7 separate regions of the Homo sapiens genome follow, and regions 1, 2, 3, 5, 6 and 7 are each linked to region 4. The links come from fine-mapping of genetic effects on gene expression. A gene starts in region 4. Each other region holds a variant in brackets. All regions are shown on one strand. Distances are between the middles of the regions.

The links. PIP is the estimated chance that this variant, and not a neighbour inherited with it, causes the effect. A credible set is the group of variants that fine-mapping cannot tell apart.
Region 1: its variant is the best candidate, but not a certain one, in a credible set for the expression of GOLM1 in aorta (GTEx, PIP 0.81).
Region 2: its variant is the best candidate, but not a certain one, in a credible set for the expression of GOLM1 in gastroesophageal junction (GTEx, PIP 0.70).
Region 3: its variant is the best candidate, but not a certain one, in a credible set for the expression of GOLM1 in monocytes (BLUEPRINT, PIP 0.72).
Region 5: its variant is the best candidate, but not a certain one, in a credible set for the expression of GOLM1 in whole blood (TOPMed, PIP 0.78).
Region 6: its variant is the best candidate, but not a certain one, in a credible set for the expression of GOLM1 in whole blood (INTERVAL, PIP 0.62).
Region 7: its variant is the best candidate, but not a certain one, in a credible set for the expression of GOLM1 in whole blood (INTERVAL, PIP 0.58).

Annotation. Positions count from the first base shown.
Region 1 is chr9:86,072,568-86,076,622 of GRCh38, forward strand. All of the region lies in intron 3 of GOLM1 (golgi membrane protein 1), which reads right to left. Among named protein-coding and RNA genes, the nearest start is that of GOLM1, 25 kb to the right of the region's middle. The variant G/A (reference allele first, on the strand shown) is at 1,693.
Region 2 is chr9:86,031,919-86,035,984 of GRCh38, forward strand. It overlaps GOLM1 (golgi membrane protein 1), which reads right to left. Exons shown (of 10, transcript NM_016548.4): 8 at 3,450-3,707; 9 at 1,364-1,477. Among named protein-coding and RNA genes, the nearest start is that of GOLM1, 66 kb to the right of the region's middle. RefSeq lists an enhancer at 3,992-4,066. The variant A/G (reference allele first, on the strand shown) is at 1,995.
Region 3 is chr9:86,049,405-86,053,470 of GRCh38, forward strand. It overlaps GOLM1 (golgi membrane protein 1), which reads right to left. Exons shown (of 10, transcript NM_016548.4): 4 at 3,133-3,187. Among named protein-coding and RNA genes, the nearest start is that of GOLM1, 48 kb to the right of the region's middle. The variant G/T (reference allele first, on the strand shown) is at 2,016.
Region 4 is chr9:86,097,824-86,101,889 of GRCh38, forward strand. It overlaps GOLM1 (golgi membrane protein 1), which reads right to left and starts at 1,735. Exons shown (of 10, transcript NM_016548.4): 1 at 1,588-1,735. RefSeq lists an enhancer at 1,176-1,676 and silencers at 1,307-1,356, 1,517-1,616, 1,627-1,946.
Region 5 is chr9:85,988,316-85,992,381 of GRCh38, forward strand. The region is part of intron 11 of NAA35 (N-alpha-acetyltransferase 35, NatC auxiliary subunit); the gene reads left to right. Among named protein-coding and RNA genes, the nearest start is that of NAA35, 49 kb to the left of the region's middle. The variant G/T (reference allele first, on the strand shown) is at 1,975.
Region 6 is chr9:86,060,342-86,064,407 of GRCh38, forward strand. All of the region lies in intron 3 of GOLM1 (golgi membrane protein 1), which reads right to left. Among named protein-coding and RNA genes, the nearest start is that of GOLM1, 37 kb to the right of the region's middle. RefSeq lists an enhancer at 2,343-3,259. The variant G/A (reference allele first, on the strand shown) is at 1,715.
Region 7 is chr9:85,860,755-85,864,820 of GRCh38, forward strand. No RefSeq gene overlaps it. Among named protein-coding and RNA genes, the nearest start is that of NAA35, 78 kb to the right of the region's middle. The variant A/G (reference allele first, on the strand shown) is at 1,641.

The sequences.
Region 1 (4,055 bases), 25 kb before region 4:
AGCTTTGAAAAATGTTCAAGGATTCCAGTAAATGTGGGTAAAGATGAAAGAAATCCCTCAGAAAAACAAGCATTAACTCAATTACTTTGTAACAGCTCTATCAAATTACATTTAGATGAATTACAGTCATGCATTGCTTAATGATGGGGATAGGCTCTGAGAAATGCATCATTATGAGATTTTGTCTTTGTGTAACCATCATAGAATGCACTTATACAAACCTGGATATTATAGCCTACTGTACACCTAGGCTGTATGCTACAGCCTAATGCTCCCAGGCTACAAACCTGTACAGCATGGGACTGTACTGAATACTGCAGGCCTTGTAACACAGTGGTAAGTATTTGTGTATCTAAACACAGAAAAGATACAGTAAAAGTAGTAAGTATTTGTGTATCTGAACATAGAAAAGATTAGAATTTGATGGGTCCATAATTGACCAAAACATCACATGTGGCGCATGACTGCATACATCTTAATTACAATGCCCTTTAATTTTTAAATCACTTCACTGAAGAAGGGTAAAAAGGAAACTGAAAAAAAGATAACCTTGACAATGCATTTTTATTTTTAAAAGTGTAATTCTGCAAAACACTTGATCTCAATCACCGGTTTCTAGATCAGCTAGCTGCATCACAGTGGTCTGGAAGTTTAGAAAAAAAAAAAAGTACATGTATGAATATGTGTATGTTTATATATATGTGAGATATTTTTAAAAATTCTATATTCTGAGCCCAAACATCCAGAGAGTCTGATCTAGTGTATATTTTTAATCTGTATTTTGTTCATAAGCTCGCAGGTGGTTATCACGAGCAGCCAGGTGAGGACGGATTGCTCTGAAACAACTTCCATAACAAATAAGATCAAAACCCCAAGCTGGGGTGTAAACAAAAGCTGATTTGATAAGCTGAACAGATCATTCTGCATCAGAACACCAGCAAGCTGCAGAGACTTACTTTCAGGGGGGTGCACAACTCCCCAGGTTGAAGGTGATTTCATCTTCCATTGCCCAATTGCCCACACTGCTCCCGAACCTTACAGAGAAGGGGGAAAGGCACCAAGGAACCACAGGAGACTCAGACTCTGCCCTCCGCTCCACTGAGGAACATGGCTCCCTATGACTCAGAGGCCCAAACAAGGTTTTCCCCAGCATTCTGCCAACCACACAAACCCGTGCTGTCCAATGTGACCATTATTTGGCTATTTACATTTAAGTTCGATAAAATTAAATAAAATTCAGTTCTTCAGTCCCACTAGCCACATTTCAGGTATTCATTAGACTCATGTGGCTGGTGGCTACTGTACTATAAACATTTCTGCCATCATAGAAAATTCTATCAGACAGGGCCTACCCAAAGCAGTAATTTCATTATGAACAGGTGTTTGTTCACATTTTCCCTGATGACAGGTTTGGTTTCCAAGCTTTTGTCCAGCCCCCAACTTGAGGGATATAACACCTACCCAGAGTGACAGTGACTGCTTGAGGTGAGGAACGCTGGCAGAGACAGGCAGGGAAATCTCTAGGTCAGGTGTCATTTGCAAACCACCCCCAGCCACAGGTCCCCACACCCCAGCTCCTCCCATGGCTGAGAATCACCATGGTTCTTTAAAATTTTTTTAAGGAGACTTGTTCCAGTTCTAACCACAAATGCTAACCTTCTAAGATTTAAAAAAAAAAAAAAAAAAAAGACA[G/A]ACAATGTATAAAAAAGTATTTAGGTGAAGGATAAGCCCATCCATGTAGCCAAAATAGAGCTAGTTAGAACACAGCAGTCTTTGGAAGCAAGGAGATCTAAAGAAGATGTTTTTAAAGTTTCTACTGTGAAGTCTTTAATGCAGACAAAGGTAAACAAGCTAGCATGCTGAACTCCCATGTACCCATCACCAGCTTCAGCACTGACCAACTCAAGCCCATCTGGTTTCCTCTATCCCCCTTCCCCTCCACCTTGGCGCCCTTCAGGTGCGGGCAGCCAAGAAGTTGTGTCTGCACTGAAGGAAGGCGGCGGCCAGTGTGCAGGGGTGGAGGCTGGCCTGGGGGCTCTCTAGGGTCTAGGTGTCATCCTGGTGACAGCTGCTAACTCTCTGAGCTTCCATTCACTAATAATATGAGCCCCAATCTCGTCAGACTGCTGGGAGGAATTAATGAAACAGTCCCTGTGAAATGCTCAGCCTCACGTCTGGCCAAGCACAGGCTCAGGAAACGTTCACTCCTGTGGCTGGTGTGGTGCCTGTCATCGTTCTCCTTCCATAGCCCCACCACACTGCTTGCTCTTGGTTCCACCTCCCTCAGTGTCTTCCTAACTCTTTTTAAAGCTAGCACAATTTGGTTTCATGGTTTCAATTTGGGAGGAAAAAAAAAATCTGCTACGGTCTGAGTGTGGGTGTCCTTCAAAATCCACACATTGAAACCAAATCACCAAATACCAAATGGAGGCGATAATGTTAGGAGCCGAGACCTCTGGGAGAGTCAAGCCCTCATACATGGGATTAGTGCCATAAAAGAGGCCCCAGAGAGCTGCCTTGCCCCTTCCACCAGGCAAGGACACCGCAAGAAGAAGGCATCCATGAACCTGGAAGTGGGCCCTCACCAGATGAATCTGCCCCGTCTTGATCTCTGACTTCCCAGCCTCCAGACCTGTGAGAATAAATACTTGTTGTTTATACGCTGCTCAGTTTATGATATTTTGTTATAGCAGCCTTAAACAGACTAAGACAAAGTCCATACAGAAAGAGATAACATTATCACCGCTGCTGCGGTGGCTTACGACTGCGCCCACCACTGCTGCTGTGATCATGGCCTCGACTGCCGTTGGTACAATTAGGTGTAATAATACCAACCACCAGCTGCTGAGCTTTCATTCTAGGTTGAGCACTGGGTTAAACGCTTTATAAATATTATCTCATTCAATCCTCACAGGCACCCTGTGAGATTCCTTTCTCATTTCCACTTGACAGTTGAGAAAACAGATCCAGAGAATTTAAGTGACTTGCCTAAAATCACACAGCTGAGGGAACTTTAAACCCGGGTCTGCCTGACTCACAAGTTCCATGCCTCCTACCACCAAACCACAGCTAAAATCCTCCTGCAGCTAAGGTTTGATGTGAGAACCCACCCTTGCTCACCAAAATGAAAAGACATTTATATCGCATATTCTAAAAGAGAAAAACTGTGGAAACAGATTCTCTTTTCAAATAACTACTTGATGCTCTTTTTTTTCTTTTTCTTTTTGAGAGATGAGGTTAAAGGGGATTTCAGGAGCACAAAAAGCATATCTCACCAGTAAGAAAAGGGAAGAAACATAAAGAAGCACTTTATTACAACAACATTATGCACAATTCCCAGAGAAGAAATATGAGCTTGCAAATATAGGAAAGTACTCTGCAAATTAAACAACAAAAAAAGTACTTCTTGAATTTTAAATCAGTTATGCGAGAAAAGTCTGAGTCCCTTCCTGGAAATAATTCATTTTCTGAGACAATTCAAGATAATGGAAGTTGAGCTACAACATTCTTCCAATAAATTAGCCACTCCAGAGAGAGAGGTACACGCATTATAAAAGCCAAATTTTTCAGGCCAGGTGCGGTGGCTCATGCCTGTAATCTCAGCACTTTGGGAGGCCAAGACGGGTACATCACCTGAGGTCAGGAGTTCGAGACCAACCTGACCAACATGGCGAAATCCCATCACTACTAAAAAATACAAAAAATTAGCTGGGCGTGGTGGCACATGCCTGTAGTCCCAGCTACTTGGGAGGCTGAGGCAGGAGAATTGCTTGAACCCGGGAAGCAGAGGTTGCAGTGAGCCAAGAGGGCGCCATTGCACTCCAGCCTGGACAACAAGAGGGAAACCCCATCTCAAAAAAAAAAAAAAAAAAAAAAAAAAAAAAAAAGCCAAATTTTTCTAGTTAATAATAGAGGCCAAAGTTTGATGCACTCTGGGACAGGAGATATTAGTAACTCACACAGTTACACAATTTAATAAAGAAAGTATAGTCATATATTCCTACATAAGAAAACCAGGCCGGGCACGGTGGCTCATGCCTGTAATCCTAGCACTC
Region 2 (4,066 bases), 66 kb before region 4:
CCATCTCAAAAAAAAAAAAAAAAAAAAAAAAAGACGCCAGACATGACGTGCCTCCCGATGAAAGAACCAAAGAACACACCACCACTCACCTTACCGAGGGCTTGAGCCAGGACCTGAGTCTCATCAAGTCTCTGGGTATAGCTGCCACTCTACAGAAAACAGAGACCAGGCGAACTCACTCAACTCCCCCATGACTCTATAATCAGCAGTATTCAGGCTGTGGGAAACTACAGTCACATGGCTTGGATTCTTTTGTTGTTGTTGTTGAGATGGATTTTCACTCTTGTTGCCCAGGCTGGAGTGCAGCGGTGCGATCTCAGCTCACTGCAACCTCTGCCTCCCGGGTTCAAGCGATTCTCTTGCCTCAGCCTCCCGAGTAGCTGGGACTACAGGCGCCCACCACCACGCCTGGCTAATTTTTTCTCTTTTTAGTAGAGACGGGGTTTCACCGTGTTAGCCAGGATGGTCTCAATCTCTTGACCCGCTGATCTGCCTGCCTTGGTCTCCCAAAGCGCTGGGATTACAGGTGTGAGCCACCACACTTGGCCCAGAAAAATGAATTTTAAGAAAGAATACTATGAGTCCATAGTGATACCAAAACAAACAAGTGTGTTGGAGGAGGGAGAGGAGTTCCTTAAAAAATGTCAGGTAATAAATGTGCTGTGATGGCAGCATGTAAAATGTCACCACTTGGGCAATGTTCATCAATGGATGGTAAAGCTACACAAGTTCAAAGCATCCTCTTCTAGATGACGTATTAATATCAAAAGGAAAATGGCCTTCTGAGACCTTGTGGGCACCATGTTAGCTAAGGGATCAACCAATCACCTGTAGGACCACCTGCTGTTATGCCTCCTGGGGAGAAGCAAGAATTCATCAGCCTGAATCCACCACAAGCAAACAGACAAGGCCAGAGTTTGATACATTCTACAAGATACTGGCCTGGACTCTTCAAAAATTCAAAATAATAATACAAAGGGCAGCTTTCATAGCTGCTTGGAAGCTCTATGCACATACTGGGGCTTCTCATCTGGGAGGCAGACTGATCAAGTAGTGACCTAGCCATTTTGTTGGGAAATCCCTAAATGTCACTGAAAAATCATCCTACTTAAAGAGTTGAGCCACACTGAATATGTTTCTAGAAACGATGCAGACTTTCCGAATGGTTTTCATCACCTTGGGCTTCTCAACCCTCACTTCCCTCCACTGCCCCTGGTTTAAAAGCTCCTAAAGAACAGACGATCTCCTTGAAATGACCCATTAATTACAATATAATTTTGGGGATTCATTGGATAATCACGGTGAAGGACCAGGAAAGAGAAATGAAAGGTGACCTCGTCACCGATGTAGGCCCCATTCTTACCATCTATGTTTCTGTCATTCCCTGCCAGGGCTGCTTGCTTGTCTGTCTCAGATTCTGCTTCATTTTCATCCATGTTGTAGTCATCTTCTCCTCTCAGTTTCTGCTGGTTTCTCCCTGTAAAATTAGCACATAAAACATAAGCTACATCATTTCTGTCTTGATGTCACAGGACTATCAGAGCACAAGTGCTGGGGGTTAGCCATACTTGCTCACAATCAGATCTGTCTGCTGCCTCTCTGGAAATGGTAGGGACGCAAGGGCTGGCTTCCAGGACAAGCACATGCATTATGTGTACTCCACTTGGACTCGGAATCTACAGACAGCATGGCCCTAAATACAAGGGTGCATTCTAGGCAGAACATGGAGAAACTAACAACCCAAATCTCAATTTTTTAAAGAGATAATCAACTCAAGATAAAAGAAAGGTGCCACTGTTTTAGGAAGGAACGGATATCTACAGCTAATGACAGCATCTCCTTAGAATGGAGAGAGGAAATGGAGCTGCCACTGTGAGACACGTGAGAAGGTGTCCCTCATACTTAGAGCATGAGAGCACCCATTACTCTATTCTTCCCTGGAGTGGGCAGCAGCCAGAGAAGATGAGGACAAAAGGCTTTCAAGAGACCTACTC[A/G]AAGGGTTTAACTTACATATTTTATATGTGTATGCAGGCTGGTAAACAAAATCTTTTTTTTTTTTTTTTTGAGATGGAGTCTCACTCTGTCGCCCAGGCTGGAGTGCGGTGGCGTAATCTCGGCTCACTGCAACCTCCGCCTCCGGGGTTCAAGCGATTCTCCTGCCTCAGCCTCCCGAGTGGCTGGGATTACAGGCACGTGCTGCCATGCCCAGCTAATTTTTGTATTTTTAGAAGAGATGGGGTTTCACCATATTGGCCAGGATGGTCTTGAACTCCTGACCTCATGATCCGCCCACCTCGGCCTCTCAAAGTGCTGGGATTACAGGCATGAGCCACTGCGCCCGGCCAAACAAAATCTTTTTTAAAAGTGCACACCTGGAAAAGCAGCTCTAGTCTCTTTCTCTGGCTCACTGCCTGGGGTGGAAACTGCACAGGCCTATGTGTCCACCGCGTTTCTTCAAATGAGGTCACCACACCTGCATCTAGAAGCAGGTGCATCCTGCAGGCACTGTGGCATCTCAGGCCCACCTTTGTTACGCTTTGTGACCAGCCGCTGAGGGGTCTGACACTGGAGCGCCACAGGCTGAGCGAGCCAGTGAGATCTCCCCGCCTCACACACCACAAGCATCTTCTTGCTGGGTGAGCACGGAACACAAGGACAGAGCAGGGATACTTAGGGGGAGGCTGACAAAATCCAATTCTTTAACTGGAACTTGGAAGGACACGTTCTTCAGTAAGACACTGAAGTGAAAATTAGATTTAAATGGAATCAAGGTAACTTCTGCAAATAAGTGTATTCTCCAACTTCTGTGACTTGGTCCACCCCAGAGCGCAGGTGTCATGTCCTCAGAAGTGTTCCTGGCTCAGGTGGGAAGGACATTTTCCATATCTGAAGGGACTGAAATACATCCTGGAATAGTCGGTTGATCTCCAATTCCTACCCTTTATTTCTTTAAAAAGAAAAGAGTCAACCAAACCAAAAAGGAGTGATTCACATGTCATTTTTTCTCAATGTTCACATATGCATTAACCTTCATCTACCCAATATTCCTTCCTTCCTTCCTTCATTCATTCACTAGGCACTGATTGTCTAAATGGCACCAGACACTGCACGACGGTGGACATACAAAAATGGGGCATGTGGCCTGCCTGCCAGGAGGGGGCGTCCACTTGATGCTAAGCACCCATCTGCAGGCCATCCACTTGCAAGGTCCCCTCGACTCCCTGCCAATATTGCATCTAAAACCTCGAGTTCTAGAGCATATGCTGCTCTTCCTTCCTGCCTCCCTCTTGATAACGAATAAGAAACCTTCAAACGAAAAGGAATTGGCAAATTGTGGACTGCTGTTTGGTAAAATTCAGGGTGATATGTTGGTGCTGGGAAGGACATGGAGGTGGGCTGGGTGTCTGGTGGAAGGGAGTCCACAGCGGCCCCCGAAACTTCACACCCACCTTCCCCGGCAGCTTCCTGCTCCTCCTCCTGTCCGTCGGGGATGACAAGCTGGTCTCGCTCAGGGCCCTCCATCTCTGGATTTTCCTGGCTCACTGACAGGGCAGCCTGCACCTGTGGGGTCTGGCCCAGTTCTCCGGCTCCCCCGAAGCCTCTTCCACCTACAGGTCTGTCTTCCACCACCTGCTCCCGGCCTGGCTCCTGCGGCAGCCTGTCCCTCTGAGGCTCCTCATTCACCACCTGGATCTCATTGGTTTCCTCTGTGCACAGAACACAGTTAGCTGTGACCTTGCCAGCATTTGATTTAAAAAAAAAAAAAAAAAAAAAAGCAAAACCTGGTGCCACTCAATTCCCAGAGCCTTCCCAAGGAGTGGGGGTGGGGTGGGCTGCACACAGGAGAACAACCAGGTAGCTCCTTTTGTGACCTCAGCCACAGACTGCAGGCCTTTCTGTGCCTGCAGCTCATCGTCAGAACCGCGACAAAGGGAAAAGTAGCTTACCAAAAAAAAAAACAAAACAAAAAAAAAAAAACACCTGGACTAAATTACCTTGACAAGGTACAAAGGGAAAAGGGTATCCTGCTGAGTGACCTGATCATCGGGTCCGCTGGAGCAAGCAC
Region 3 (4,066 bases), 48 kb before region 4:
AAGAAAGGCATTGGTAGCTTGATGGGGATGGCATTGAATCTACAAATTACCTTGGGCAGTATGGCCATTTTCACAATATTGATTCTTCCTATCCATGAGCATGGAATGTTCTTCCATTTGTTTGTGTCCTCTTTTATTTCATTGAGCAGTGGTTTGTAGTTCTCCTTGAAGAGGTCCTTCACGTCCCTTGTAAGTTGGATTCCTAGGTATTTATTCTCTTTGAAGCAATTGTGAATGGGAGTTCACTCATGATTTGGCTGTTTGTCTGTTATTGGTGTATAGGAATGCTTGTGATTTTTGCACATTGATTTTGTATTCTGAGACTTTGCTGAAGTTGCTTATCAGCTTAAGGAGATTTTGAGCTGAGACAATGGAGTTTTCTAAACATACAATCATGTCATCTGCAAACAGGGACAATTTGACTTCCTCTTTTCCTAATTGAATACCCTTTATTTCTTTCTCCTGCCTGACTGCCCTGGCCAGAACTTCCAACACTATGTTGAATAGGAGTGGTGAGACAGGGCATCCCTGTCTTGTGCCTGTTTTCAAAGGGAATGCTTCCAGTTTTTGCCCATTCAGTATGATAATGGCTGTGGGTCTGTCATAAATAGCTCTTATTATTTTGAGATACGTCCCATCAATACCTAGTTTATTGAGTTTTTAGCATGAAGGGCTGTTGAATTTTGTCAAAGGCCTTTTCTGCATCTATTGAGATAATCAATGTGGTTTTTATCTTTGGTTCTGTTAATATGATGGATTATGTTTACTGATTTGCGTATGTTGAACCAGCCTTGCATCCCCGGGATGAAGGCAACTTGATTGTGTTGGATAAGCTTTTTGATGTGCTGCTGGATTTGGTTTGCCGGCATTTTATTGAGGATTTTTGCATCGATGTTCATCAGGGATATAGGTCTAAAATTCTCTTTTTTTGTTGTGTCTCTGCCAGGCTTTGGTATCAGGATGATGCTGGCCTCACAAAATGAGTTAGGGAGGATTCCCTCTTTTTCTATTGATTAGAATAGTTTCAGAAGGAATGGTACCAGCTCTTTGTACCTCTGGCAGAATTCGGCTGTGAATTGCCTGGTCCTGGACTTTTTTTGGTTGGTAGGCTATTAATTATTGCCTTAATTTCAGAGCCTGTTATTGGTCTATTCAGAGATTCAACTTCTTCCTGGTTTAGTCTTGGGAGGGTGTATGTGTCCAGGAATTTATCCCATTTCTTCTAGATTTTCTAGTTTATTTGCATAGAGGTGTTTATAGTATTCTCTGATGGTAGTTTGTATTTCTGTGGGATCGGTGGTGATATCCCCTTTATTATTTTTTACTGCATGTATTTGATTCTTCTCTCCTTTCTTCTTTATTAGTCTTGCTAGTGGTCTATCAATTTTGTTGATCTTTTCAAAAAACCAGCTCCTGGATTCATTGATTTTTTGAAGGGTTTCTTTTGTCTCCATCTCCTTCAGTTCTGCTCTGATCTTAGCTATTTCTTGCCTTCTGCTGGCTTTTGAATGTGTTTGCTCTTGCTTCTCTAGTTCTTTTAATTGTGGTGTTAGGGTGTCAATTTTAGATCTTTCCTGCTTTCTCTTGTGGGCATTTAGTGCTATAAATTTCCCTCTATGCACTGCCTTAAACGTGTCCCAGAGATTCTGGTATGTTGTGTCTTTGTTCTCATTGATTTCAAATAACATCCTTATTTCTGCCTTCATTTAGTTATGTACCCAGTAGTCATTCAGGAGCAGGTTGTTCAGTTTCCATGTAGTTGAGCGGTTTTGAGTGAGTTTCTTAATCCTGAGTTCTAATTTGATTGCACTGTGGTCTGAGAGACAGTTTGTTATAATTGCTGTTCTTTTACATTTGCTGAGGAGTGCTTTACTTCCAACTATGTGGTCAATTTTGGAATAAATGCGATGTGGTGCTGAGAAGAATGTATATTCTGTTGATTTGGGGTGGAGAGTTCTATAGATGTCTATTAGGTCTGCTTGGTGCAGAGCTGAGTTCAAGTCCTGGATATCCTT[G/T]TTAACTTTCTGTCTCGTTGATCTGTCTACTGTTGACAGTGGGGTGTTAAAGTCTCCCATTATTATTGTGTGGGAGACTAAGTCTCTTTGTAGGTCTCTAAGGACTTGCTTTATGAATCTGGGGCACGCACCCAATTATTAAAAATGCAAACTAGTCTACATGGCAGACCAGAGGCTGCCTGAGGGAAGTGGATCACCACGGCGCACAAGCAAGCTTTTGGGGGTGATGAATATGCTCCCTGTGTTGACTCTGGTGGAGTTACTTGACATGTATGCTCTATCAAAACCGCTGTCAAACTGAACCTTTATGTGAGACCCCCCAACTCCCACCCCCGCAGCCAGGCAGCCTCTTCAACTTTGTGGGAAACGTAGGGTTACACAAACACATTTCACAAAGTGACCCCTTTTCACATAAGACTTTTTAATATTCTTAGAACCTGACTTAGAACTAGAATTCGAAACCAGCAATGACCAAAAGAATTATAATGCAAGTCATATAAGGAATTTTTAACTTCCCAGTAACCACATTTTTAGAGTAAAAATTATTCAACCCAACAGATGATTTAGCCCAGTAGCATGGACCCTGCTGACCCTCCTGTCACTCCTGTCACAGTGGAAGGAGCCCCCGACAAAGGACAGCACCCCATTTCCTGCTCTGTGGCTGCTTCAGAAGGACTCAAAGGAAGACCAATCCCCAGCTGCCAAGTTGAGTCAGAGCGGCAAAGAGGGGGAATTAAATTGGGCTGGACAGTTTTTCTAAGTTTCATGCAGACAATCTAAATTCAGCATGACCAAATTAACAGGTCACATGTATACCATATGTATATATAACAGAACATGTACCTATCATAAATACTATCTCTTAACACATTCATGAGTGACACTCTTAACTCTTCTGTACCTAACAGCTTGCAATGTATTTGGCAATATTTTTTTTTAAAAGGAAAAGCCTCTTAAGGAGATAGACTTAGGCAAAAAGAATAAAGATTGCTCAATGACTCATGACACTATCCGCCATGAGATTATAATGGAGACCCACCTGGGCCTAGAGAAGGAGAGAAAGGGAGTTTCCTCCTCAAAGGCCAGTGCCTGGTGTGGAGGAGCGAGCGGAACTTACCTTGCAGCACTCGGATGAGCCTCTCACCTGTGGTGATGTTATTCACCAAAACCGCCTGCAACGAAGATAAACTCGCATGAAACACCCAAACCAACACCTCAGCCTGACAGCCAGATGTGATACAAACCAATGATGGGGCCTGTCCCCAACCCAGCGCTGCTGTCAGGGAAGGAGCTCGCACTCAGCGCTCAGGCTGGGCCCTCCCATGTCTGCTGCTGAAAAGGAACAGGCCGACCTAGAGATCCGCTCCCCACCACCGCCTCTGGACCCGAGCAAAAGCCAACGGGTCCAGACCCCACTCCAGCCCAGGAAACGCTGCTCCTCCAGGAAAGGGCCAGCCAGGCCCTCCTTCCTCCTGCCCGACACAGCAGAGGCTCTGGGCACCCAGAGGGCTAATCAGCAACCTCACACCGCACCACACCACACAGCACTCCACACCAAACCACACCACGACACACCAAACCACACCACACACACCACTCCACACAACACCACGCCATATGACTCCACACACCACCAGACCACACCACACACCACTCTACACGACACTACACCATGCCACAACTCCACACCACACACACCACACCACACACCACACCAAACCACACACCACTCCACACCACACATTCACACCAAACCACACACCACACCCACCACTCCACACCAAACCACACACATCACACCACTCCACACCACACATACCACGCCATATGACTCCACACCACAACGCCAGACCACACCACACACCATTCCACACCACACACCACACCAAACCACAGCAGGCCACACACCACACTACACCACGCCACAACTCCACACCACGTACCACTCCACACCACACACACCAAACCACACATCAGTCCACACCACACACTTCACACCAAACCACACCACACCACACACCATTCCATACCAAACCACATCACACCACACC
Region 4 (4,066 bases):
GGTAGCCCTGGGCCTGCTATGGTCAGCTGTCCTAACTGTTGTTTCTGCCCAGCCCTCAACAACAACAACAACAGCGGGTGGAATGTAAATGCAAAATCTTTTCATTTCCCATCAATAACTGGACCTAAACCAGCCATTAGAAAGCAGATGGTATCCCTGGCCCTTAATATCCAAGTCACCACAATTTCCTGGCCCCACCCTCAGCACTACTTTCCTCTCATTTCTTTCGTTTTCCTGTAAAACCAACTTTAAAAAAAAATGTGAAAATTGGATAACCTCTCCATAGGAGAACAAAATGTATCTTAAAAGCTAACCTCTTTTCTTTAACCATCCTAACAATTCAATTTTTGTTCACTGACACCTTAAGAATTGAGTGTCTGGCCTAAAAACAGTAAGTCTTAGCAAGTTACTAGTTTCTATTAAGAAAGAAAGTAATGAGCTTAGCTTCATCTTTTATAACACAACTGGAAGAAGCTAGGATGCCTTTGGAGACCCACAAAAACTGACAAGAGATTGTCCCATGCCCTCCAAAATTCAGAAATACTAAAACTGAGATTTGAGCCAACCTGATGGCCATGAGCTAAACAAAGCCACTCAAGCGCTGCTAAATACTTCATCAGGTTATTGTGTATCTCACTAATCCAGCCCTAGAAATGTTCCTCAATAATGTGCATAATGTAGGGCCTAGGGACCCCAAATCAGACAAAGAAAACCTCAAAATCGTGAAAGTCACACAAGTTTAGTTTTGCAAATCTGGCTATGGGACATCTGAAATTGTCCAGCATCATCATGGTATTTCAAATATAATAATTCTTAAATTTTGCTAAAAAATTTCATCAAAATTGTTATTCTTCACATTTTGTTTCTTAAAAGCAAATCATTAAAAATATTAAATGGGATATGATTTTTACAGCAGGGCAAAGTTGTGTGGATCCTCCACGTTGGCAAAGGTGGAAACACAGGTATGCGAGAAAACCCCGAGCATCCACGAGAACGGGATGCAGCCGCGCTCTGGACGCGCGGCGGGAGGACCCGGAGCCCAAGCTCCGGGGTCACCAGCCACGAGGCCCAGCGGCAACGTGGACCCCAGGGCGGCCGGAGCGCGCCTGGGGCTGGAGGGGAGGAAGAGGCGGCGGGAGCCGAGAGACTCGCGGCTCGGCCAGCCTCCCGCGCCTGGTGCAAATCACGCTGCAGAACTGGAACTAGTGCGACTTAGGGGGTGCACGCTTTTGACTTTGGATGCCGACGCGCGTGACAAAGCTCAGAACAAAAAGACAGGCCCCGCATCGCCTGAGACTGCAGGGCAGGGAATCCTCGCGAGGCCCCTCATCGCAGGGCAAGGGGGCCGCGCGCCCGGTCTTGGGGAGCGAGCCGAGGGGCCCAGGCAGCCGCGGGCTACTCGGTGCAGGAAGGTGCGGAGCCAGCCCCGAGCGCAGCCAGCGAAGGTTGCAGCCCCGGCGCAAGCCGCGGGGAGGCTCCGGGGACCGACGCGAGGTCTCGGCGCGCGGGGTACGGGCCCTGGGCAAAGGAGGGAGGAAGCGATGGACCGCGGTTCGGGCAGCCTGGGGCCGCGCGCCGCCCACTCACCTCTTTTCGAGGCTCCGGCCGCCACTCGGGGATCCGGGGCCCCGCTACGAGGCCGCCCGGGTCGCTCTCCCGCCGCCGCCGGCCTCGAGCTCCGGCCGGCTCCGCGCCGTGCGCCCAGCGCCTCCGCGTCCAGCGCCGCCGCGTCTCCGGCCTCCGCAGCGGCAAGGCCCCGCCCCCGAGCAGCGCCGGCGGCGCGAAGGGAGGAGGCGGCGCCGCGAGCGCGGAGAAGCGAGGCAGGGGCTGCCGGGGCCGCGCGGACTCCCGGCCCCACGGTGCGCGCGCCCCGGCCGGTGGCCGCCCCTCGGCGGGAGCAGGAACGCCAGCGTGCGCCCAGTTCTCGCCGCTGGGCGTTGCCCCTTCCCCCGGGCCACCCCATCGCCCCTTCCGACGCGGGAGCTGGCGCCTGAGCAGCGACGCGGAGCGGGGAAGCGGCTGTGGGGAAAGGGTACCTGGGGGGAGCCCCCATCCCACGTTCCGCCCCGAGGGAATGTTCCCGAACAGCCAACCGCACCCAGCGCCACACTCACGTTACCTTCTTTATAAAAGTCGTCGGGTCAAAACTGCCCAGAGAAGGAAGCGAACGAAAAACAGGTTTTTAGGGGGCTTATACTCACAAAATTGTCTTTTTTCTCCCACGAGGCATTCCCTGTTGACCATCATCTCGCCTCGGTTGTCACCGCTCAGGCCTTAGTGTTTGGTCTGTGACCCTTCCACTGCTAGCAACGGAAAAAGTGAAGATTCCCGGACGCCTTCGGGTGTGATCTTATAGCCCGGGCAGCTGCATTTGAAACAGCGCCTCAGATGACGCTCAGGCGCACTGATGTTTGAGAAGCCCTATGAGGCCGTACCTCCCGGAGAGAATGCCACAAAACTAGTGACCTACAGGGAAACCATGCTAGAAAATTCTAAAGCAATGGTTCTTAACTCTGGCAGCACCTGCCATCCATTAGAATTATTTGGGGAGCTTTTAGAGCATTTAGGAACCAGGGTCCCACTTCCAGAGTTCAAAGTGAACTTGATATTTTTTGTTTGTTTTGAGCTTCCCAGATAATCCTAATACAGTATACGGCCAAGATTGAGAACAGTTTTCCTAGAATCATGTCTTCATGTCTTCCTAGCTCTGGTGTCTGGGAAAGGAAACTCCTTCCTCTGCGCCTCTCTCAAATCACAATAAAAAAACAAGTAAATACATGAACACCTAAAGGAATGCTCACAGCTGAAATTGATTTTAACCAGAACAAAGAGTCACCTTAAAAAAGGTGATCAAGATACCCTATTGCTACCTGAGCATGGAGCTTCTTAACTGCAGGAAACGTATCTTTACCAGCTAAAACCTCTTAGCTGAATTAGAAGCTGACCATACATGACCCCTTTAGAGGAATGTTCTACTATATTCCAAAATGATATTTTTGTTATCTGCAACTGTTAAACTGTTGTAGGGTCAGACCAAAGCATTCAGAAGCTGAGGCTGTATCAGATGTCAGCCCTGGTTTTGCAGACTTAAGTTGTGTCACTTTGATCTTCTAGTGAGCTTAAATAACCATAATCGGGGACAGGTACAGGAAATTCCCTTTCTTGCCCATTTTAGCTCTCTTAGTATAGTTTACATTCTTAGACTGGTGGACTGTAACTTCTATATCATTTGGCTCTAAGGAGGGTCTCCATTAGTCTCTCATTTATCAGCAACTAATTAGCGACTCACTCAGTGATTCTTAAACACTTTATGGAACAGGTCCATATGTCTAGGTGCTAAGGCAGCTGGCTGAATGAGCTATATTTTAATTGAAGATGAATTAGTCCTTTTCGTTAGATTCTTTATGACAAAAGTTGAAAATTTTAAGATGCAGTTTTATATATATCTATATACATAATTTACATTCCTTATAAAAAAGCTAATCAGTTGCTGGCCCTGAAAATTCAATTGGATGGGTTTTGATTAAACAATGTGCAAGGGGCTACAGTGGTTGGTTGAAGGAAGCATCCATGTTTTGCCTGTTAAGCATCCTTTCCTTAATGTCTTAGTCCATTTTGTGTTGCTATAACACAATTCCACAGACTCAGTAATTTATAAAGAAAAGAAATGTATTTCTCATAGTTCTGAAGGCTAGGAAGTCTAATATCAAGGTGCTGGCATCTTGCAAGGGCCTTCTTGCTGCATCAGCCTGTGGTGGAAGGCAGAAGGGCAAGAGGGTGTATGTGAAATTGAACTTGCAGCCTCAAACCCTCTATAATTGGCATTAATTTATTTATAAGAGTGGAGCCTTTATGACCTAAACACCTCCCTTTGGGCCCCACCTCCCAACACTGTTGCACTGGAGATTCAGTTTTCAACACGTGCTTTATGGAGCACACATTCAAACCATAGCATTCTGCTTCTATGCCCCCCACCACCCCCAGTTCATATCCTTCTCACATACAAAATACATTTATTCCATCCCAACAGCCCTAAAGGCTTTAATATTTATTTATTTATTTATTT
Region 5 (4,066 bases), 110 kb before region 4:
TTTATTTAAAAATGGCCTCTATAGAACAAGAGCAGAAAGCGAAAATATTAAGACTAAAAGAAGAAGTAATGAATAATAGAAAGGGAGTAAAAGTGACCAGGCAGAGTTCAGGAAAGCAGTAGAAGAGAAAAATCCTGAGAGATCTCATTGAAAATAGCAAAAGCATTCTAGACATTGCTGAAAAGCCGTAAAGGACATGGAGGGCCGGGCGTGGTGGCTTACGCCTGTAATCCCAGCACTTTGGGAGGCCGAGGCAGGCAGATCACCTGAGGTCGGGAGTTTGAGACCAGTCTGACCAACATGGGGAAATCCCCATCTCTACTAAAAATACAAAATTAGCTGTGGTGGTGCATGCCTGTAGTCCCAGCTACTCAGGAGGCTGAGTCAGGAGAATCGCTTGAACCTGGGAGGCGGAGGTTGCAGTGAGCCGAGATCACGCCATTGCACTCCAGTCTGGGCAACAAGAGTGAAACTCCGTCTCGAAAAAAAAAAAAGGACATGGAGGTCAGGATTGAGGAAAAAACTAAGCGAAGCAGAAGTGAGCAAAGGAGATGTGAAGTATGATGAGAAAGTAATAGCAAAAGAAGTCTCAGTATACATATGATTGGCGTCCCTTAAGATGTGAACAGTATAATGGAACAGAAAAAAATGTTAGACATTTCTAGAAGAAACTAGAATTAAATCCATGAGTGTCCATTGAAAGAGTATAATGTGTTCCAGGATAAATTGATAAAGAATTATTAATAGTAAAATAGAGCCTAGTAAATTAAGATCTAAAGCAACTATTATATTGGCTTCATGGTTCTTCACATCAACATCAACACAGAAAGTAGTGTAACAATATCTTCAAAGTCCTCAAGTAAAGAACTGTGACCTGCTGGGCGTGGTGGCTCACGCCTGTAATCCCAGCACTTTGGGAGGCCAAGGTGGGCGGATCATGAGGTCAGGAGTTTGAGACCAGCCTGACCAACATGGGGAAACCCTGTCTGTAATAAAAATAGAAAAATTAGCTGGGCGTGGTAGTGGGCGCCTGTAATCCCAGCTGCTCGGGAGGTTGAGGCAGGAGAATCGCTTGAACCCAGGAGGCAGAGGTTATGGTGAGCTGAGATCGCAGCATTGTACTTCAGCCTGGGTGACAGAGTGAGACTCTGTCAAAAAACAAAAAACAAACAAACAAAAAAAAACAAAGACAAAACAAAAAAACTGTGACCTAAGAGTTTTACACCCATTCCAAAGGTCTTTGAGTGACACTCGTAGAAATATTTTTAAACTAGCAAGAACTTGGAATATTTTTCCAAAGACCTTTTTCCTGGAGGAGAAAGACTGAAATCAGGAATGAAATTCAGCCTACTGAGACATAAATGGAAAAGCTGTGGCAGAAGGACAGGCATTGAGCATTGATTCTGTTTCATTGTAGAACTGTGGTTAAAACGGTGGAAATTGGTTTTACTAAATATAATGTAACATAACTGTCAAGAATCTTGACAATATAAAAGTAATTAACCAAAGTCAGGAAGTAACGGGGAAGACTAATTTTCTTTTATATGCAGGGGTCCAGAGATACTGGTTAAAGCTGAGAAATCATCTGTAATATAAAGATAGGTATATTTCAACATGTGGAGGTAACCAATGGCGATAGAGATAAGATTATTCAAGTTTGGTGCTTGTCGTAGTTCATTTTGTGTTGCTGTAACAGAGTTCCTGAGACTGGGTGATTTATTTTAAAAGAGGTTTACTTAGCTCATGGTTCTGCAGCCTGGGAATTTCAAGATTCATGGTGCATGCTCAGCTTCTGGTGAGGCCATGCACTGGGTCAAAACATGGCAGAGAAGTTAAGCAGACATGTGGAAAGAGGGACCAAACAGAAAGAACCTCCCTTTTAACAATACACTATCATGGGAACTAATCCGTACCTGTGAGAACTAATCCAGTCTCACGAGAGTGAGAAGGCATTAATCTGTTTAGGAGACATCT[G/T]CCCCCTTTACTCAGACACCTCCTGTTAGGCCCCATCTCTCAACACTGTTGTACTGGCAATTAAACTTCAACTTGAATTTTGGTGGGGACGAAAACACATCCAAACCATAGCAATGACCAAAGGAAGGTAAAGGGAGGTCTTTAGCATTATCATTGTTTATTATTGGTAAGAAGATTAACAGCTACCTTTCTGAAGGAATAGAACTTTAGAGATATTAATAAAGTTGTAGATACAAAATTAATAAAAGACTTCTCAATTATCAGAAGGAAAATACAGCAAAGAATGAATGATCTTAAAGATAACAAAGGGAACCATGTATTTCCAATTTAGTGATAACAAAACTCAGTTCTGATTCTTGCTCTTCTTTCCTTCTCTTCTTGAAAAAATTCACTCCTAATGCCATGAGATGGGCCTGAGCACAATGGGCATGTGCGCTAGAGCGAGACTTTGGAGCCTGCCTTAGGGATGATGATGGTGTCCACATGGGAGATAGGAGTAGCCTGACATAAGGTGTTGTAACCATGTGGGTAGGTGGAGTGTACTTGTAGCAGGGTGAGGCCTAGCATGGGCCATCAGAGTCTGTGTGGAGTAAGGAAGTGTCCATGTAGAATGGTAGTGGAATGGGGAGGGCATCTGCAAAGAGATAAACCTAGAGCAGGAGTTTGGAATAGTTCAAGATACCTTGAGAGCATCACTGTGAATCGGTAGCCTAACTGGATTCACTGCTTCTAAAGTGAGTGGAGAAGGGTATTTCCACAGGAGTGTAGCTGAGCTTGGGGTGCCTGAGCCTAAGCAGGATTGAGAAGGGGACCATGTGGGAACAACCTGGCACTGTATGTCAGGAGCCTAAGTAGGATGAGGAGGGTGTGTCTATGGGAAGGCAGTCTAGTACAGGGTTTTGGAGTATAAAGGCAGGGAGTAGAGAGAGGCATGGGGTGTGGGAGTCCAGGCAGGGTAGGCTCATGTTAATGGAGCCTGGCAGAGTAGGGTGGTGAAACCTGAGGTAAATTCATGGAGGTGGTTGTGTGCAGGGCTGTCAGAGACCAAGCCAGGTAATGAGGGCATCTGTGCATGTGGGTGACCAAGTACAGGGTTTCAGAGCCTAAGCATGTTGAAAAAGGTGTCATTGTGGAAGGTTTCCCAGGTATGGGGTGTCAGATCATAAGTGGGGGGAAGAGGCTGTCCAGGAGGACTGGATGGCATGAGATGTCAAAGCCTAAGCAGGAAGAGAAAAGTAGAAAGGTGGCTCCATGTGGGAAGTTGTAGCCTAAGCACACTGATGAAAAGCTTCTGTGCAGAAAGGTGGCCTGTTGTGGGGTATCAGAGCTTAGATGGGGTGAGGAGAGCATCTCTAGAGGAGTGCCAAATGGAGTGGAGGTTATGGTGGCCTAACATGTCAATGATAGGAGATTGTAGTGGACTGAATGATGGTCCCAAAGCTATCAAGGTCCTATTTCTACTTCTCAGAACCTGTAAATATTACTTTATTTGGGAAAGGGATCTTTATAAATGTGATTGTTAAGGGTCTTGTGATGAGGGGGTGATCATGGATTGTCTGGCTGTACCCAAATATCATAAGTGTCCTTCTAAAAGAGGTGGATGGGCCGGGCGTGGTGGCTCACACCTGTAATCCCAGCACTTTGGGAGGCCAAGGCAGGCGGATCACGAGGTCAGGAGATCAAGACTATCCTGGCTAACGCGGTGAAACCCCGTCTCTACTAAAACTACAAAAAAACAGCCGGGTGTGGTGGCGGGCGCCTGTAGTCCCAGCTACTCAGGAGGCTGAGGCAGGGGAATGGCGTGAACCCAGGACGCAGAGCTTGCAGTGAGCCAAGATTGTGCCACTGCACTCCAGCCTGGGCAACAGAGCAAGACTCCGTCTCAAAAAAAAAAAAATAATAAAAAATAAATGAATAAAATAATAGGAACATATCAGTTGGATATAGAAAAGAACTTGAAGGGGATCTCACGTGGTCAAAATTAGCAAAAACTTAAGCATCAAAGTAAATAATTCTGACAGATCATAACTTATTGAATAAAAGATAAAGCCATTATTCTACCCTGATATAAATAAATGAAATGGACAGTTTG
Region 6 (4,066 bases), 37 kb before region 4:
GAGACTTGCAAACAAGTCATTTATGGCATCCTGCTAAGATTACACACTCACACACTCATTCACACACACAAACAACAAGACAAGCAGTGACTCCCAAATGCTTCATGCCTACAGCCACCACTGAGCCAAATGGTGGGTCGCTGGATGCATGTTCCCATAGGGACAAGGGCACAAAGTGATGAGGAAACTAGTCCAGTCCACAAGCCCCTAAAGATGACATGATTATGTTTTGTGGGTTAAGAAGTTACATAACACACAGGCCGGGCGCAGCAGCTCACGCCTGTAATCCCAGCACTTTGGGAGGCCGAGGCGGGTGGATCACCTGAGGTCAGGAGTTCCAGACCAGCCTCAACATGGAGAAGCCCCGTCTCTACTAAAAATACAAAATTAACTGGGTGTGGTGGTGCATGCCTGTAATCCCAGCTACTTGGGAGGCTGAGGCAGGAGAATTGCTTGAACCTGGGAGGCAGAGGTTGCGGTGAGCCGAGATTGTGCCATTGCACTCCAGCCTGGGCAACAAGAGCGAAACTCTCTCAAAAAAAAAAAAAAAAAAAAAAAAAAAAAAAAAAAAAAGAAGAAGAAGAAGAAGTTACACAACACAGAAATGTTGTGACTGACACTGAATACTTGACATGAGGAATTCCTGGATGTTTTGGTATGATCATGGTATTGTGGCTATGAGAGACAGACAATCCCACCTTTTCAGGACGTGTGCTGAAATAGTCATGGTTAAAACGGCACGAGTTGTAATCGCTGAAGCTTGGCACTGGATGTGTGGGGGCTCACTGGGTCACTCTGTCTACCTTTTCATGTTTACGGTTTTCTACAATCAGCCAACACACACAGGCACACATAAGCTTGCCACATTGATAATTAAATCTGCCAAGTACAATTTTTTAAAAATCTTAACTTCAAGGCTGGTTTTAGAGGAAAAGAAAGGTGAATTAGAAGATGCTGAGATAAACCTGTTGTCTGGAGAAATTTGAGGTAGATTCAAGAACTTTTAGAAGGGCAGGTCTTTGCTGCAGTATTTCTCATTTGTAATTTCACTCCTAAAATTAAGCAATTTTCTTTTCATAGTATAGCTCCATCAACAATTATCAACTATGACAAATGGCCTTCGAAGCTCACTAATGAGGATAAAGGGAGGAAAAAGAAAAGAAAAACGAGTAACAGAGAAAGAGGGCAGCAGAGGGAAGACCGGGATGGGAGAGATTTTCTTGAAGACCTGAGACTGTGGCATCCGGTTTGGGATCTGCTGCTAATTTGCTCCTTGACTTTGGACGCTTCGTTTAACTTCTCTGTGCCTCTGTTTCCCCAAAGTGGAACCTAAGCAGGGTGGCCTGCTGAGTTTTATTTAAAGGGGCACCTTACAGACACCTCAAGTGGGAACCCAAATATGGGGGCATGGGTCAGAGTGTGAATGAGTGTCTGTGAGTGTGAGTTGAACTGAGTGTGAGAATACCAACAGGAGGAGAGGAGTGGCTAAAGGTTTAGGGGATAGAGTCAAATGTCAGCGTAAATGGTAGGATCCTGGTCAGAGAGCAGCTGAGGAGGCTTCAGGGCAGGGGACCCAGATGGGCAGAAAGGCGGGTCTGGACCTGCAGCTATGGGACAGTGTGCACAAGTCACCAAGTTTAAATGGAAGGGCGTCGGGAGATTAAGTGTAACTTTCTACAAAGCTTCAGAAAACACCATCTATCCAGGAAAACAC[G/A]TAGGACACACAGACACAGTTGCTACACGCCCAGAATAGCTCCTGCCAACACATCCCTGTGTTGTCACAGGGAAGGTAACATCCTCCCACCCCATCCACCTTGCAGCTTGGCGGGTGTGGGAAAGCACCTCGCTGGGAGAGTGCAGGATGCTCCCAGGACCCGCCCTGGGGTCACCCGGGTGCCCAGCTTGGCAGAACAAGGTCCATGAGGTGTGGTGGCCATCACAGACATAAGCACAGGGTTGATGGCGAGGGGGCCTGAACCCAAGACTGGCTCACACCCTCCCCCAGCATCTCCTGCACAGGGCACACTGCAGGTGCTTTGGGGAGGGAGGAGAGAGGATGGGGAGGAGGGGAAGGGGAGGAAGGAGAGAGCAAAGGATGGTGAGGAGAGGGAGAGAAAGGAGGACAGAGGGAAGGGAGGACGGGGGAGGAGGGAGGAAGAGGAGGAGGGAGAATGGAGGGAGAGGAGGAGGGAAGAAAAGAGGACAGAGTAGGATGGAGGAAAGGGATGGAAGGAAGAGGAGAGAGACAGGGTCTGGAGGGGAGGAGGGCAAGAGGAGGATGGAGGGAGGAAAAGGACAAAGGAAGGGAGAGGGGTGGAGGGACAGAAAGGAAGAGGAAGGATGGAGGGAGGGGAGGCAGGAGGAAGGAAAAAGGAGGAGAAGCAAACGGGGGGGGCTGCCCTTGCCTCTGAGAACCTGCTACACTGTCTCCTTTGGTAGCAGCCTGCCCCTGTGCCTCTAACCTACACGTGACTTGGGTCAAATAAAACTTCCAGGAGGATCCAAACCTGAAGGACAGTGGGAACCCCAGAATGCACTTTGAGGCTTCTCTAGCAGTGGACGAGCGCCTGTCTTCTTAGTCCCTGACCCTGGATCTTTCTGAAGGTCTCCTCATCACCCAGCTGCCAGGGAACCTGGCTGCCCCTGAAGCAGCTCACACTGGTCTGTCCCCTCTGCAGCACCACCCAAGCTGCCCCTCAGCTCTTCCCGCTGCTCTCACTCCTGAACACTTAAGGAGATGGCAGGGGAGGAGCTGCCGAACCAGAGGAGCACCCCACACACTGCCAACAGGGCTTGACCCAGGAGCGGGGGCTTGAAAAGCTCCAGCTCCGTTTTTAGAGGAAGAAGAATGCCGGATTACAACACAGCACCAGCAATCTGGATATTCGTTCCCTGGCTGTTCTTTAACCAGCCAGGAAATGCCCTGTGCAAGGGCTGGAGGCCTGGGGCTGCAGACTCCCAATCTCAATGGGCACCCCAGGGCTGAGCCACCTGAGGGCACTGGGGGTTTCCATTTTCAAACGGGAATCCTAGCAGCTTCCCTGCTCCCACCTGCGGAAGAGGAGACACTTTTGTACATTCTGACTTTCTGCAGACAGGTAAAAAGGCGTACACAGACCTTTGGGGATGAAAGAGAAACTAAAACTGAACCAAGTGTACAGGTTACAGCGTCACAGTCAAGGCACCTAACAGACCCTACTTACTGTTTGTTCTTAAACATGAATGACTGCAGATCCCTGCCAGAGACGGTAAGTGAAAAAACAGCTACCTCCTATTTTCTTTACGTATTTCCCATCAAACGCCTGTCTTGGGTTGGGTTAAGAATTACAGAAGGTAAACGGAGTCAATTCCAAGTCACTCAAGCAATTTTCTGTGTGAAGAGAGAACAAGACAAAAGCCAACCACAACAGCAAAACCCAAAGCCTCCGTTACGCCTTCTATGGCAATCAAACACGCCAACGCTCTTTCTAGTGCGTATGAAGCCAAGGCCAAGAGCGAGGACACCTGCAGGATTTGGTTCTGTCCCATTAGGAACAGAGATCAATGCACATGAAATCCATGCCTCGTCTGGTCAGCCGCTAACCATCGTGGGCAACCTCACATTGCACGACAATGCTTTCCATGTGGAACTTGTCCATGGCATGTTTAAAAATCAAACCACGTCCTGAATCAAATAGGCATCTGAGTCTTCTCCTGAGGTCCAGGACATCCCATGACAGGCTCAGGCCCCTCCCTGGAGGTGGGAGGTGAGGACCCAGCACTAGGACACCCACTGAGGCACAGTCTGCAGTGAAGGACATCTACCTGAATGGCATGTTTGCTGCTTCTCCTACAAATGTATTTTTAAGTGTGGGAAGCAAATTACTTGAGTTTAATTATAAACCTGTATTTGAAGGTTGAATCCAATTGACAAACTGGAGAATTTCCAATCTAAAAAGACTAGAAGTCTTCTGAGACAAACACTTTTATTTTCAGGGCAGCAAATTTTCAATGGATTTTACTGACCTGCTTCCATTCTGCTCAATTCACACTTTCCCGCACCTATCCCATCTGTCACGGGGCCTGT
Region 7 (4,066 bases), 240 kb before region 4:
TCTCAAATTCTACCCTCCATGGTTTAATTGACCACTGTGAGAGCATCCCCCACCAATTCCCTACGTGACTGCTGGACGACCCTCATAGAGCCTGTCAGCATTGTGGGCAAGACCCTGGGGAAGTTTCTCATTTTACATATGAATAAACTAGATGCAGAGATGTTAAGTAACCTATTCACAGTCACAGAGCTGAAAAGAACAATAATAATAATAATTGCTATTATTTATTACCATTTGCTGAAACTGTGCTGAACAATTTACATACATTTTCTTAGAATGAGAAACCTAAGGTCAGTTCTGGCTTTCGAGTGCCACCCCAAAATATGCTGCTTCAGCTTCAGTATGCTAATTAGTTAGAACTGAGGGCTTTGAAGGAAGAATAGGAAGTTACGAAGAGGGAAGAAGGAAATGGGAGTGGATAAATGGAATGGAGGGCTTTGCAGCCAAAAGGAAGAAAATGAAAAAAGGATCAGAGAGTTGGGACAAAGAGCTTTCTGAAGGACTTTACAGTAATAAAGAGGTGCCATCTCTAGATGGAGTTAGTGGGGAGAAACCCAGATTCAGTATATGCCCTTGGGTAGGTCTTGTCACCTCTAAGGACTTTAGGTCTCTCTTTTGTAAAACAAAAGATCTGAAAAATAAACAGAAGGGCTGGACTAAACAATCTCTAAGGTAGTTTTTTTTGTTTGTTTGTTTGTTTTTTGAGATGGAGTCTCACTCTTGTTGCTCAGGCTGGAGTGCAATGGTGCGATCTCAGCTCACCGCAACCTCCACCTCCCGGTTTCAAGCCATTCTCCTGCCTCAGCCTCCCGACGAGCTGGGATTACAGGCATGCACCACCACGCCTGGCTAATTTTGTGTTTTTAGTAGAGACGGGTTTCTCCATGTTGGTCAGGCTGGTCTCAAACTCGTGACCTCAGGTGATCCGCCCACCTCAGCCTTCCAAAGTGCAGGGATTACAGGTTTGAGCCACCGTGCCCAGCCTTCTAAGGTAGTAGTTTTTTTTTTTTAAATAATTATTATACTTTAAGTTCTAGGGTGCATGTGCACAACGTGCAGGTTTGTTACATACGTATACATGTGCCATGTTGGTGTGCTGCACCTGTTAACTCGTCATTTACATTAGGTATATCTCCTAATGCTATCCTTCCCCCGTCTCCCCACCCCACAACAGGCCCTGGTGTGTGATGTTCCCCACCCTGTGTCCAAGTGTTCGCATTGTTCGATTCCCACCTATGAGTGAGAACATGCGGTGTTTGGTTTTCTGTCCTTGTGATAGTTTGCTCAGAACGATGGTTTCTAGCTTCATCCATGTCCCTACAAACCACATGAACTCATCCTTTTTTATGGCTGCATAGTATTCCATGGTGTATATGTGCCACATTTTCTTAATCCAGTCTATCATTGATGGACATTTGGGTTGGTTCCAAGTCCTTGCTATTGTGAATAGTGCTGCTGTAAACATACATGTGCATGTGTCTTTATAGCAGGATGATTTATAATCCTTTGGGTATATGCTCAGTAATGGCATGGCTGGGTCAAATGGTATTTCTAGTTCTAGATCCTTGAGGAATCACCATACTGTCTTCCACAATGGTTGAACTAGTTTGCAGTCCCACCAACAGTGTAAAAGCATTCCT[A/G]TTTCTCCACATCCTCTCCAGCACCTGTTGTTTCCTGACTTTTTAATGATTGCCATTCTAACTGGCATGAGATGGTATCTCATTGTGGTTTTGATTTGCATTTCTCTGATGGCCAGTGATGATGAGCATTTTTTCATGTGTCTATTGGCTTCTAAGGTAGTATTTTTAAGCAGATGGGCCAAGAAACATTAATGTAACAGGAATGGCTTATGGGTAGGCTGCCAGTCATCTGGATGCCCCTGTCTGACATCGGTGTCTGTGCTCATTCTGATTGGTAGGTGCCTGTGCAGTAAAAGTTGTTAGTAATGTATTTGCTCTGGCTATAGATATGCAGAAGTATTGAGCCCTCAGCCCTCAGGGCAGCTGGAGGTCCTGAGCCTGCCATTTCTAATCACAAACCACCCTATTCATTTTTCATGATATGAAGACAAATATTAACTTTTATGAGAAACAATAACATCTCTTTCAGAGCTAACATTCTGTTAATCTGTAAGAGTATCATTTGCATTCTCTAGAGGGAGAGGTTTCATAACCCTCAGATAATATATGTGGGAGGCCATGGAAAAAACAAATAGGGAGCTCTCTTTGGAGAGTCTCAGGCAGAAAAGATGCTTATAGCAAAGGTAGAGAATTGGCAGGTAGCTGTACGAAGATTTCGCTTTTGGAGATGCATTAATTATTTTGCACTCGAATCACAATAATCATAAAGAGATAGTTCCTCCTAAAGATCTGGTAGAAGGTATAAGGTTTAGTAAATGGTGAATGAATGAATGAATGACCTATACTAAGTGTCTTTGTGCACCTAGAATTATGCCTGTAACCACACAGTTCCCTTGATATGTCTTCAGCTGGCCATTTATGTACATCTGTTGCCTCCACTAGACTCTGAGGGCTGCTTGATCAAGGACACACAGTCTATAGTACTTCGTTTTAGCAGCCCAAAGTGACTAAAACATGCCCCATGAGGGCAGAGACCTTATTGTCTCAATTACCACCGTATAACCACTATGTTGAAATAGTCACATAGTACCTTGCACACAGTAAGTGCTCAATTAATATTTGTTGACTTAAATAATTCAGTTCCATCTTTAAGTAGAATAGTGTAAAATACACTAAGAAAGACAATATTAATGTTGAAAATAGAATGTAAATAAGGTGAGCTGTATTTTTTGAGGTCCAGGCAATAAATAAAATTAGGCTCAAATATTTCTTTTTTTTTATTTTTTTCCTTTTTTCTTTTTTTTTTTTTTTTGGTCAGACAAGGTCTCGCTTTGTTGCCCAGGCTGGAGTCTAGTGGCACAATCTCAGCTAACTGCAACCTCCACCTCCCGGGTGCAAGCGATTCTCCTGCCTCAGCCTCCTGAGTAGCTGGGATCACAGATGCACGCCACCACGCCCGGCTAATTTTTTTTATTTTCAGTAAAGGTAGGGTTTCATCATGTTGGCCAGGCTGGTCTCGAACTCCTGACCTCAGGTGATCCACCTGCCTCGGCCTCCAAAGTGCTGGGATTACAGGCATGAGGCTTAAATATATCAAATGAAAAGTCTTTAATGAGGGAACTACTTAAAGAGTTCCTTCATGAAAGGACCAAGCAAAGAACATTGAGCCACCTAGAGCTTGCAACAGTGGGACTCTGTTACCATTTCTAAGGCTGAAGATGCAGGGGAGGAAATAGTGTTACCGGAGCACAGATAGTGCAGAGCTGGAGAGGATGGGCCATCTTGCAAGAGCTACAGCTGTGCAATGAAGCTGCCACTGTCAAAACCACAGAGCCCTCTTAACATTGCTTTTGCTGCATCCCAGAGATTTTGTTATGTTGTGGCTTTGTTTTCATTTATTCCAAATAATTTTTAAATTTCTGCCTTAATTTCATTGTTTACCCAAAAGTCATTCAGGAGCAAGTTGCTTAATTTCCATGTAATTGTGTGGTTTTGAGAGATCTTCTTGGCATTTCTATTTTCCGCTGTGGTCCAAGAGTATGGTTGGTACAATTTCGATCTTTTTTAATTTTTTGAGACTTGCATTATGGCTGAGCACATGGTCAATCTTTGAGTATTTCCCATGTGAAGAAAATATATATCCTATGGTTGATGGGTGGAGTATTTTCTAGATATCTATTATGTCCAATTGGTCAAGTGTTCAATTTAAGTCTAGAATTTCTTTGTTAGTAAAAGCAGTGTTAAGAGGAAAGTTTATGATTCTAAACACCTACATCAAGAAGTTAGATCTCAAATTAATAATCTAACATCACTTCTAGAGGAACTAGAAAAATGAGAACAAACTAACCTCAAAGCTATCCGAATAAAAGAAATAACTAAAATCAGAGCAGAACTGAATGAAATTCACACAAAGGATCAACAAAACCAAATGTTGGTTATTTGAAAAAATAAACAAAATGGATAGACTGCTAGCTAGATTAACAAAG